Linked DNA regions of Homo sapiens: region 1 is linked to region 2. Evidence: fine-mapped expression QTL. A gene starts in region 2. The other region holds a variant in brackets. All regions are shown on one strand. Distances are between the middles of the regions.

Region 1 (5,375 bases), 47 kb before region 2:
TGGCGGCTTTAGCTAATTTTTTAAAAACTTTGTTTTGTTGTTTTTATCTTTGTAGAGATGGAGTCTCGCTATGTTGCCCAGGCTGGTCTTGAACTCCTGGCCTCAAGCGATCCTCCCGCCTCAGCCTCCAACAGTGTTAAGATTATAGGGGCATGAGCCACCACACCTGGTGCATGTGGCTTTAAAGAGGCACCTTACCCTCTCTGGAAAAAAAATAAGTTCAATGTGGCCACTCATGAGATATATGGAAAGGAGTGGCACGTTATTCACTAGGAAAGTAGATTAGGGTTAAATTTGTTTTTATAAAGCCTTTTATTTTGAGATAATTATAGATTCACATGCAGTTTTAAGAAATAATACATCTAGCTGGGCATGGTCGTGTGTGCCTGTAGTCCCAGCTACTTGGGAGGCTGAGGTAGGAGGATTGTTTGAGCCCAGGAGTTTGAGGCGGCAGTGAGTCAGGATCACGCCACTGCACTCCAACCTGGGCAACAGAATGAGACCTTGTCTCTAAAAAAGAAAAAAAGAAAAAGGAAAAGAAATAATACGTATTCCTTTGTTTCTCCCAATGGTAACACCTAACAAAACTATAGTACAATAGCACAAACAGGATATTGACATTGATGTAGTCAAGATACAGACAATCCTACCACTACAAGGATCCCTCCTCTTGGCCTTTTATAACTATACCCGCTTCCCTCCTGCCCCACCTCTGCCCTCTTAACCCATGGCAGCAACTTATCTGTTCTCCATTTGTGTAACTTTATAATGTCAAGAATGTTATATGAATGGAATAATACAGTATGTAACCTTTTGGGATTGGTTTTATTCACCCAGTATAATTCGCTGGAGATTTCATTCAGGTGGTTTTGTTTATCAATAGTTTATTCCTCTGTATTGCTAAATAGTACCAGTTGAGTATCCCTAATCCAAAAATACAAAATACAAAATGCTGTAAGATCTGAAACTTTTTGAGCGCTGACATGACACTCAAAGTAAATGCTCATTATAGCATTTCAGATTTTGAATTTTCAGATTAGGGATGCTCAACTGGTAAGTTTAATGCAAATATTCCCAAATCCGAAACACTCTGGTCCCAAGCATTTTGGATAAATGATATTCAACCTGTATCCCATGATGTGGAAGTGCTGTAGTATGTCGAACCATTCACCTGTTGAAGGACAGCTGGGTTGTTTCAAGTGTTTTTTGAAGGCACCAGTCGGTGAGGGACCCTGGGACCCTCTGGCCTTTTAGGGTTCAGCTCCTTTCACATTCTGTCATTCTGCTTCAGACCCCACCCCTGTGCCCACACCCTGCCCTTTTGTCGCTATAAGCTCTGCAGATTCTGAGACCCATCCACTGACCACAGCTTCCCTCCTTCCCCTTCCCTTCCTGCCTCCGCCAATCCTGTTCCTCTGTTCTTCTCCTCACAGACCCCCAAGCCCTCAAGCCCACCCTAATCTCCCCACTTTCTCCTAGGCTTCATGTTTGTTTTCCTATCCCCTGCACACTCAAAATTAGGCCTAAGGGCTTGATCATTGGATTGAGGAGGTCCAGTTTTTCTTTTGGCCACCTCCCTGCATCCACCTCCCTGCTACTCAGGATCAATCCAATGGTCTACTTTCTATGCACTTAAAATTAGATCTATAGTTAGAAGAGAAGAATTCGAGTGGTTCTAGTATAAAGAAAAGACAAATATTTAAGGTGATGGATATTCCAAGTATACTGATTTGATCTTTACCAATTATATGAATGTATTAGATTATTGCATTACCTTGAAACTGTACATCTACTATGCATCAATAAAAAAGAAAGGAAGGAAAAGAAAAGAAAAGAAAAGATTTCCTTGAAAACGTCTAGCTGGGGGCAACTTAAATATTAATACTTGATTTTTAATAAGTATGTAAATAAAGTATTTACTAATAATTCCAATATGAGTATTATATTTGCTTATAGATGAACTTATTTCAGTAGCTTGGCTCAAATTTGAAACAGTTACTTAAGAAAGAAAAATTCAGCCGGGCGCCGGTGGCTCATGCCTGTACTCCTGGCACTTTGGGAGGCCAAGGCTTGCGGATCACCTGAGGTCAAGAGTCCAAGATCAGCCTGGCCAACATGGTAAAACCCCGTCTCTGCTAAAAATACAAAAATTAGTCGGGTGTGGTGGCGGGTGCCTATAATCCCAGCTACTCGGGAGGCTGAGGCAGGAGAATCACTTGAACCTGGGAGACAGAGGTAGCAGTGAGCCGTGATCACACCACTGCACTCCAGCCTGGGCAACAGAGCGAGACTCCATCTCAAAAAAAAAAAAAAAAGCTCCCCAGAACTGCTGGGCCCTACTGGAAAGTCACACAGCCTTGGGGATTGGGACTACTAATACTTGGTCTCTGACTTTACCTAGGCCCTCAGTGCTGCTCAGCAATCCTTTACCGCCCACCTGTAGCCATCCACCACCCCACTCCCATCAGTCAACAGAGAACTTCATTCCATGGTTCTCAACCCTAGACGTACATCAGATTCGCCTAAAAAAATACGAGTGCCTAGGGTCTCATCCCAGACCAACTGCATCAGAATCTCTTGGAGGGGGGCCTGGACTTTGATAACTTTTTTAGAAGGGCTGGGCTCTGTGGCTCATGCTTGTAATCCTAGCACTTTGGGAGCCCGAGGTGGGTGTATCACTTGAGGTCAGGA[A/G]TTCGAGACCAGCCTGGCCAACATGGTGACACCTTGTCTCTACTGAAAATACAAAAATTAGTTGGGCATGGTGGCATGCGCCTGGAATCTCAGCTACTCGGGAGGCTGAGGCAGGAGAATCACTTGGACCCGAGAGGCGGAGGTTGCAGTGAGCTGAGATTGCGCCACTGCACTCCAGCCTGGGCGACAGAGTGAGACTCCATCTCAAAAAACAAAAACGAAAAACTTTTCTAGAATTTCTGGAGGTGATTCTAATATGCTGCCAGGGTTAAGAAACACTCATCTAGTCTCACAGCGTTAGTGTGAGGATTTAATGAGATAAGTACTCATCAACTTTTAAATGTTTTTATTATTTTAACAAGAAAGTGGAAACCAGACCCATTGTCAGGAACTCATTGGCTTTCAGCCCCCTAGCAACAAAGTTACCTCCTCACCTTTTTTCCTTTAAGGCTAATTTTTCAAACCGTGTTCTGAATACCAAACCTTGCTCCTTCATTTATCTCTACCCTCTTTTTTGTTCTGTCTTCAACCGGTTTTTTTTTTCCTAGGTCTTTCCCTTCATTCCGAAAATATGCCCAGGGACCTTTAAAATTCGTGGGTTTTTTTGTTTTTGTTTTTGTTTTTGAGATGGAGTCTCACTCTTGTTGCCCAGGCTGGAGTGCAGTGGCGCGATCTTGGCTCACTGCAACCTCCATCTCCCAGTTTCAAGCGATTCTCCTGCTTCAGCCTCCCGAGTAGCTGGGATTACAGGCATCCACCACCACTCCCGGCTAATTGTTTGTAGTTTTAGTAGAGATGGGATTTCTCCATGTTGGCCAGGCTGGTCTCCAATTCCTCACCTCAGGTGATCCGCCCACCTCTGCCTCCCAAAGTGCTGGGATTACAGGCCTGAGCCACCTCGCCCAGTGTAAATTTCGTATTTACATGTCTTCCACTTTTTGCCTCTAGCCAGAGCCCTTTCTCCTTTTCAAACAAAGTTAGTTTGTTTGAATTACCCTCCCACTTGACATTGTTTCCTCAGTCAGCCTGCTGTATTCTGGCTTCTGCACTTAAACTCTTCTGAAACTCCTTTTTCTGAGATCATTGTTCCATCATTGCACAATGTATTATACTTCTTACCTGATGTCTCTGCAACCCTTAACCCTTGTTGACCATTTCCTCCTTGAAACTCTCTCCTGCCTTGGTTTGTTAGCACACGCTTCTCTCCTACCTATATGGCCTTTCCTTTTTATTATGCTTTTTTCTTTTTTCTTTTTAAGAGACAGGTTCTTGCTCTGTCACACAGGCCGGGGTGCATGACATGCAGTGGCATGATCATAGCTCACTGCAGCCTTCAATTCCTGGGCTCAAGTGATCCTCCTGCCTCAGCCTCCTGAGTAGCTAAGACTACAGATGTGCACCACCATGCCCGGCTAATTTTTTTTAAAGTTTTTGTAGAGATGGGGGTCTTACTATGTTGCCCAGACTGGTCTCAAACTCCCATCCTCAAGGGATCCTCCCACCTTGGCCTCCCAAAGTGCTGGGGTTATAGGTGTGAGCCACTGCGCCTCGCCCCTTTTTATTACACTTTTTGAGTTCTTTACTTGTTGCTTGAACATTGATAGTCTCCAAGGTTACTTTAGCTTTCTTTCCTCCTCTTCTCATTTTCATCTCCTTCCTGGTAACCTCATGAATTCCACACTTCAGCTGCCACCTCCATAGTCATCACTCCCAAACTCTTTCTGTAGCTTGGCTCTCCAAGACACAGCTGCACTGTTGCCAGTTCGTTGGTCACACTTGCAGACCCCACAGGAATGAAAAACTCTTTGTCGCACTGTCTAAACTAGAATACTCGTTTATTCATTTATAAAATGGTGGACGGTATCCCCTATCTGTGACCACGAATGCAGTGTACATTTTCCCAGGAATTGTATCAGACAATCACTTTGTGAGTATGGAAGCAGAAACAAGGAGGCAATCTAGAAGCTGTCTCTTAAAAAAAAAAAATTAACTGTAAAACAGCCTCAGGCAGGTCCTTCAGGAGGTATTCCAGAAGAAGGCATTATCATAGGAGATGACAGTCCCATGCATGTTATTGTCCCTGAAGACCTTTCCATGGGACAGGACATGGAGGTAGAAAACAGTGATATTGATGATCCTGACCCTGTGTGGGCCTAAGCTAGTGTGTGTATTTGTGTCTTAGTCTTTAATAAAAAAGTTTAAAAATTAAAAAAAAAAATTTTAAATAGAAAAAAGCTTATAGTGGCTGGGCGTGGTGGCTCACACCTATAATCCCAACATTTTTGGGAGGTTGAGGTAGGCAGATCACTTGAGGTCAGGAGTTCAAGACCAGCCTGGCTAACACTGTGAAACCCTGTCTCTACAAAAAATACAAAAATTAGCTTGGCGTGGTGACACGCGCCTGTAATCCCAGCTACTCAGGAGGCTGAGAGACACAAGAATCGCTTGAACCTGGGAGGCGGAGGTTGCAGTGAGCTGAGATTGTGCTACTGCACTCCGACTTGGATGACAGAATGAGACTTCATCTCAAAAAAAAAAAAAAGAAAAAAGCTTATAGAATAAGGATATGAAGAAAGAAAATAGTTTTGTACAGTTGCACAATGTGTTTGTTTTTTAAGCCAAGTGTTATTAAATAGAGTCCAAAAGTTTAAAATTTTTTAAATGTATAAAGTTAAAAAGATATA
Region 2 (5,375 bases):
CCAGATATTCCAATTTCCCTATTTTAGGGTCAGCTGGTTAGTGACCTTAATTCCTCTCTACCATATGAGGGTAACATATTCACAGGGTTCAGAAATTAGTATGTGGATATCCTCGGGAGGCCATTACTCTGCTTACCATACGAAGGCTATGGTCTTGCCAAGCCAGTATAATTAAGTGTGAAAGAGAAAAAAAATAAGTTAAAGTTGTATACAAGGAAGCCTCCACAATTATTGACTCTGAACTTCAAACTATGTAAGGAGAGAAGTGAGAACCTGAGGGGTGTGCAACAGTGAAAAGATGGAATCAATGAACTATAGGTCCCAACAATATCAAACATTTGTTGGAATTGGTATTCTAGAGGGAGTAAGGTAGAAGATGGAGAGTAGAATGCTTGAACGGTGGTGTAATAATGTAAGTGTAATAAAAAGTCTGATTCTGCTGGGCATGGTGGCTCACACCTGTAATCCCAGTGCTTTGGCAGCCTGAGTTGGGAGGATCACTTGAGTCTAGGAGTTCAAGACCAGCCTGGGCAACACAGTGAGACTTCATCTCTACAAAAATCTTTTTTTTCTTTTTTTTCTGAGACGGAGTCTTGCTCTGTTGCCCAGGCTGGAGTGCAGTGGCGCCATCTCAGCTCGCTGCAACCTCCGCCTCCTGGGTTGAAGCAATTCTGCCTCAGCCTCCCAAGTAGCTGGGATTACAGGTGCCCGCCACCATATCTGACTAATTTTTGTATTTTTAGTAGAGACGGGGCTTCACCATGTTGTCCAGACTGGTCTTGAACTCCTGACCTCGTGATGCACCTGCCTCGCCCTCCCAAAGTGCTGGGATTACAGGCATGAGCCACTGCACCCAGCCTACAAAAATCTTTTAAAAATTAGCCGGGCTTCATGGCACACACCTCTGGTATATGTTTATATGTACAGTAAGTCCTCAGTTAACGTGGTCAGTAGGTTCTTGGCAACTGCAACTTTAAGCAAAATGACACACAGCAGGCCCTTGAATGACACTGGTTCATTCAATATCATTTTGCTGCAACACTGATGAGAAAAAAATTGGTTTTGCTACGTCATTTCACTTAAAGTCAGTTTCCAAGAACCTATGGACAATGTTAAGTGAGGACTTACTGTATACACACGCACACACATCTTTGCTCACTCATGTAAGTGTATCTGTAGAAGAAAATACTACAAGTCTTAGCTTCAAAAGTAAAACTATGTATCTTAACTTTTGAATTGACTCATATAGCTCATCACACACCAGCCTGAGAGAATATAAATAAATGCTTACTCACACTATTGACTTTATTAAAATCTGGCATGGTTTTCTTGAATGGCAATTTTAAATACACATTCCCTAAGACCCAGCAATCGGAATTCCAAAGTGTACACTCAGTTACGAAGTGCACAAAAATTCACACAAAGGCTGCCTATTACAACAAAAGTATAATGGCAAACAATTGGAAAAATCTAAATGAAAGGCCTGGCATGGTGGCCCACGTCTGTAATCTCAACACTTTGGGAGGCCGAGGCAGGAGGATTGCTTGAACTCAGGAGTTTGAGACCAGCCTGGGCAACATGGCGAGACCCTGTCTCTACTAAAAACACAAAAAAAATACTTTGGGAGGCCGAGGCGGGCGGATCACGAGGTCAGGAGATTGAGACCATCCCGGCTAACACGGTGAAACCCCGTCTCTACCAAAAATACAAAAAATTAGCCGGGTGTGTTAGCGGGCGCCTGTAGTCCCAGCTACTCGGGAGGCTGAGGCAGGAGAATGGCGTGAACCCGGAAGGCGGAGCTTGCTGTGAGCCCAGACCGCGCCACTGCACTCCAGCCTGGGTGACAGAGCGAGACTGTATCAAAAAAAGAAAAAAAAAAAATAGCTGGGTGTGGTGGTGTGCGCCTGTGGTCCCAGCTACTCCGGAAACAGGTGGGAGGATCGCATGAGCCCCGGGGGATGGAAGTTGCAGTGAGCTGAGTTAGAGATCGCGCCACTGCACTCCAGCCTGGGTGACAGAGCCAGACCCTGTCTCTAAAAATATATATAAAACAACAATAGTAAAATAATAAATTGGCTGGACATGGTGGCACCCACCTTAAGTCCCAGCTACTAGGGAGGCTGGGGCAGGAGGACTGCTTGAGCCCAGGAGTTCGAGGCTGCAGTGAACTATGATCAGGCCACTGAATTCCAGTCTGGGCGACACAGCAAGACCCTGTCTCAAAAAAAATTAAAGCAGTAAAATTCACAGAGACAGAATAATGGTTGCTAGGGGCTGAAGGGAGGGGGAAATGGGGAGTTTGTTTAATGGGAGTAGTTTCAGTTTTGCCACATGAGAAAAGTTCTGGAGATGACGGACGGCTGCACAACAATATGAATGTAGTCAACACTACTGAACTGTACATTTAAAAATGGTTAGGATGATAAACTTTATTTTTCATAAAACCCAGTTTCTGCACAAAAAGATAAAATTTATGTTATGTGTACTTTACCACAATTTAAGAAAAAATTTAAATTCTCATCCCAACATTACCACGCCCCCCACCCTTAGCCAACTGGTGAATGTTTACTCATTTTTCAACGCCTAGCTCAAATGTCTCCTCTTGCCACGCCATCCCTTAGCTGACCACCCTTGTAGTTGGCCATTCCCTCTTTTATGCCAACACTGTGCCCTGCACGTACATTATACCTCTTACAGCACTTATCAAACCTAGTAATTATTGCTTTACAGATCCGTTTCCACTACTAGATTACAAACAATTTGGGGGCGGGGACCTTGTTTTACTCATCTCTGTATCCCCTAGACTTAGGGCTTGATAAGCTGAAAAGAATCAAGAAGGGCTTGATTAATTAAGGCTCCTCTGGCTTTTAAGGAGACCATACTGGAGGGTCATTTGCCCAAAAGAAGAGGCATCGGGGTCTCCTCAGGTTTTAGAAATCTGGTCAAACATCCAGAGCTGACTCCCACACCCTACTGCGAGAAGAGCGCGAGCGCGCGTCTCAAAAGGCTCCGCCTCAACAGTTCGGGTCCCCAGGAGGATCCGGGGGCCACCCCACCTCCACCCTGGGCCAGGTCGGTTAGCTAGACCCGCCCAGCGGTCCAGACATACCTTAGGTAATGAGCAGCCTGCTCTGGGCTCAAGGCCTCGGCTTCCGGAAACCTTCGGGATGCCTCCATGACCCTCGGATTGGGTTCCAGTTACCCCGGCGGGAGTTTGGAGCTTGGAGCTTGGAGCTTGGAGCTTGGAGCTTAGAGTTTGGAGCTTGAATTTCGCTCACTCCCGCCCCGCGCATGCTCTGTGCGCCGTGGAGAGGGACACAGCCAACCGACGGCCTCGCGGCCGGCCAATCCGCGACCACGCGCTGCGACGCCTCCGCCTGAGCCCCGCCCATGACGGTGGGCGCCTGCGCCTACGCGCGCCGGGAAGCAGAAGGTGATCTCTGCCTTCGAGACACGGAGTGTGCTGCCTCAGTCTGTGATCCCTCGCGTTTCAATCCAATTCAAACCATGCTGCAGCCAATTCGTTCGCGCGTGCGTGTGCCATCATTGTGAGTGGAGGAGACTGCCCGATATGATCCCAGTCATTGCGGCGACCCCTGGAGATCTCCAACGCCTGCGTCCCCCAACCATACCCTGCCCCGCATCCACAGATATCTTCCCTTCCTTGATCGCCAGTACCTGGCACTGACCGTGCTTTGAATTCAAACACCCTGGGAGGCATAGTCCCTGTGATTTAAACTAACATTGAAGAAGCGACCAGACGCGGTGGTTCACGCCTGTAATCCCAGCACTTTGGGAGACCGGGGCGGGCGGATCACGTGAGGTCAGGAGTTCGAGACCAACCTGGCTAAAATGGTGACACCCCGTCTCTACTAAAAATACAAAAAATTAGCCGGGCGTGGTGGCGGGCGCCCGCAGTCCCAGCTACTCGGGTGGCTGAGGCACGAGAATCGCTTGGACCCAGGAGGTGGAGGTTGCAGTGAGCCGGGATTGCACCACTGCACTCCAGCCTGGGTGGCAAAGCGAGACTCCATCTCAAAAAAAAAAAAAAAAAAAAAAAAGGCTGGGTGCAGTGCCTCACGCCTGTTATCCTAGCCTTTTGGGAGGCTAAGGTGGGAGGATCACTTGCACTTAGGAGTTCGAGACCAGCCTGGGCAACATGGTGAGACTCCCGTCTCTTTAAAAAAAATTTTTTTCTTCTCCACAGGGCGTTATGCTGTATTTATTTTCTTAAAAAGAGAGAGAGAAAGAGAGAAGGGTCTTCAAGAATCTCAAACCCTGGAGGTGGAGGCTGCAGTGAGCCAAGATCATGCCACTGCACTCCAGCCTGGGTGACAGAGAAAGACTCCATCTCAAAAAAAAAAAAAAAATTAAAGTTCTTATTTAAGAAATAAGTAACTAGGTTCACATACTTGGTATAATAAAAGGAAGACAAAAATAATTTAAAAAAAAAGAAGTAGTGCTGTGGTCATCATTTCTTCAGAAGCACCAACTAAGATACAGTCATTTTCAAATGCAGAGCCTAAAAAGAAGGCAGAGCCTAGAGCTTAAGGAAATGTGATTGAGTTTAAGTGGCTTGCTTGGGTGACACTAAATAGGAGGTTGTGGGCCAACAAAAATTGTCCTTGTTCATATACTGTTAAGAACACAGACATGACTCCTCAAGACACTAATTTAGCATTCAGTATTGGAAAACTCACCTATTGGCCCAGTCATACATCATATGTCCAGAGAATTTTAAGCTTTTCATAAAATTTATAGACCGTTATGAGTTAAAAGGAATGTTGGAGGCCGGGTTCAGTGGCTCACTGAACCTGTAATCCCAGCACTTTGGGAGGCCGAGGCGGGCGGATCACCTGAGGTCAGGAGTTCAAGACCAGCCTGGCCAAATGGTGAAACCCCCGTCTCTACAAAAATTAGCTGGGCATGGTGGCGGGTGCCTGTAATCCCAGCTTCTCGGGAGGCTGGGGTGGAAGAATCGCTTGAACCCAGGAGGCAGACGTTGCAGTGAGCTGAGATCGTGCCATTGCACTCCAGCCTGGGCGACAGAGCAAGACTCCATCTCAAAAAAAAGAAAAGGGTTGGGGGGAGGTGGGGGATCTTGGAGAACATGGGCTATTTTCCTGGTTTGTATGACTTTAAGGCCTTTATTAAGAGGCCTTTTAGTATACTATTATCCACATTTTTCAGATGTGGAAACAGGCTCAGAGAGATAAATTGACTTCATCTAAGCTTCCTGAGCTAGGAAGCAGCAGAGCCAGAATTCAATACTAGGTCCATATGGACACAAATCTGTGCCGTTTCGCTGTGTCACACTGGAAAGAAGAGGGCAGTGGCGGGAAATGAGGTTGATGAGGCAGTTGAAGGCCAGGTTA

Which allele goes with the higher level. Positions count from the first base shown, and alleles are read on the strand shown. Sizes are in standard deviations (SD) of each study's normalised expression.
With allele G in place of A in region 1, the expression in tibial nerve of the gene that starts at base 3,293 in region 2 is higher (small effect, 0.26 SD a copy in GTEx).

Evidence for each region. PIP is the estimated chance that this variant, and not a neighbour inherited with it, causes the effect. A credible set is the group of variants that fine-mapping cannot tell apart.
Region 1: its variant is the best candidate, but not a certain one, in a credible set for the expression of ERCC6L in tibial nerve (GTEx, PIP 0.71).

What each region holds. Positions count from the first base shown.
Region 1 is chrX:72,188,654-72,194,028 of GRCh38, forward strand. The region is part of intron 2 of PIN4 (peptidylprolyl cis/trans isomerase, NIMA-interacting 4); the gene reads left to right. Among named protein-coding and RNA genes, the nearest start is that of PIN4, 9.6 kb to the left of the region's middle. The variant A/G (reference allele first, on the strand shown) is at 2,692.
Region 2 is chrX:72,235,735-72,241,109 of GRCh38, forward strand. It overlaps ERCC6L (ERCC excision repair 6 like, spindle assembly checkpoint helicase), which reads right to left and starts at 3,293. Exons shown (of 2, transcript NM_017669.4): 1 at 3,110-3,293. The coding sequence starts at 3,177. It also overlaps a transcript of PIN4 not described here. RefSeq lists an enhancer at 3,075-3,224.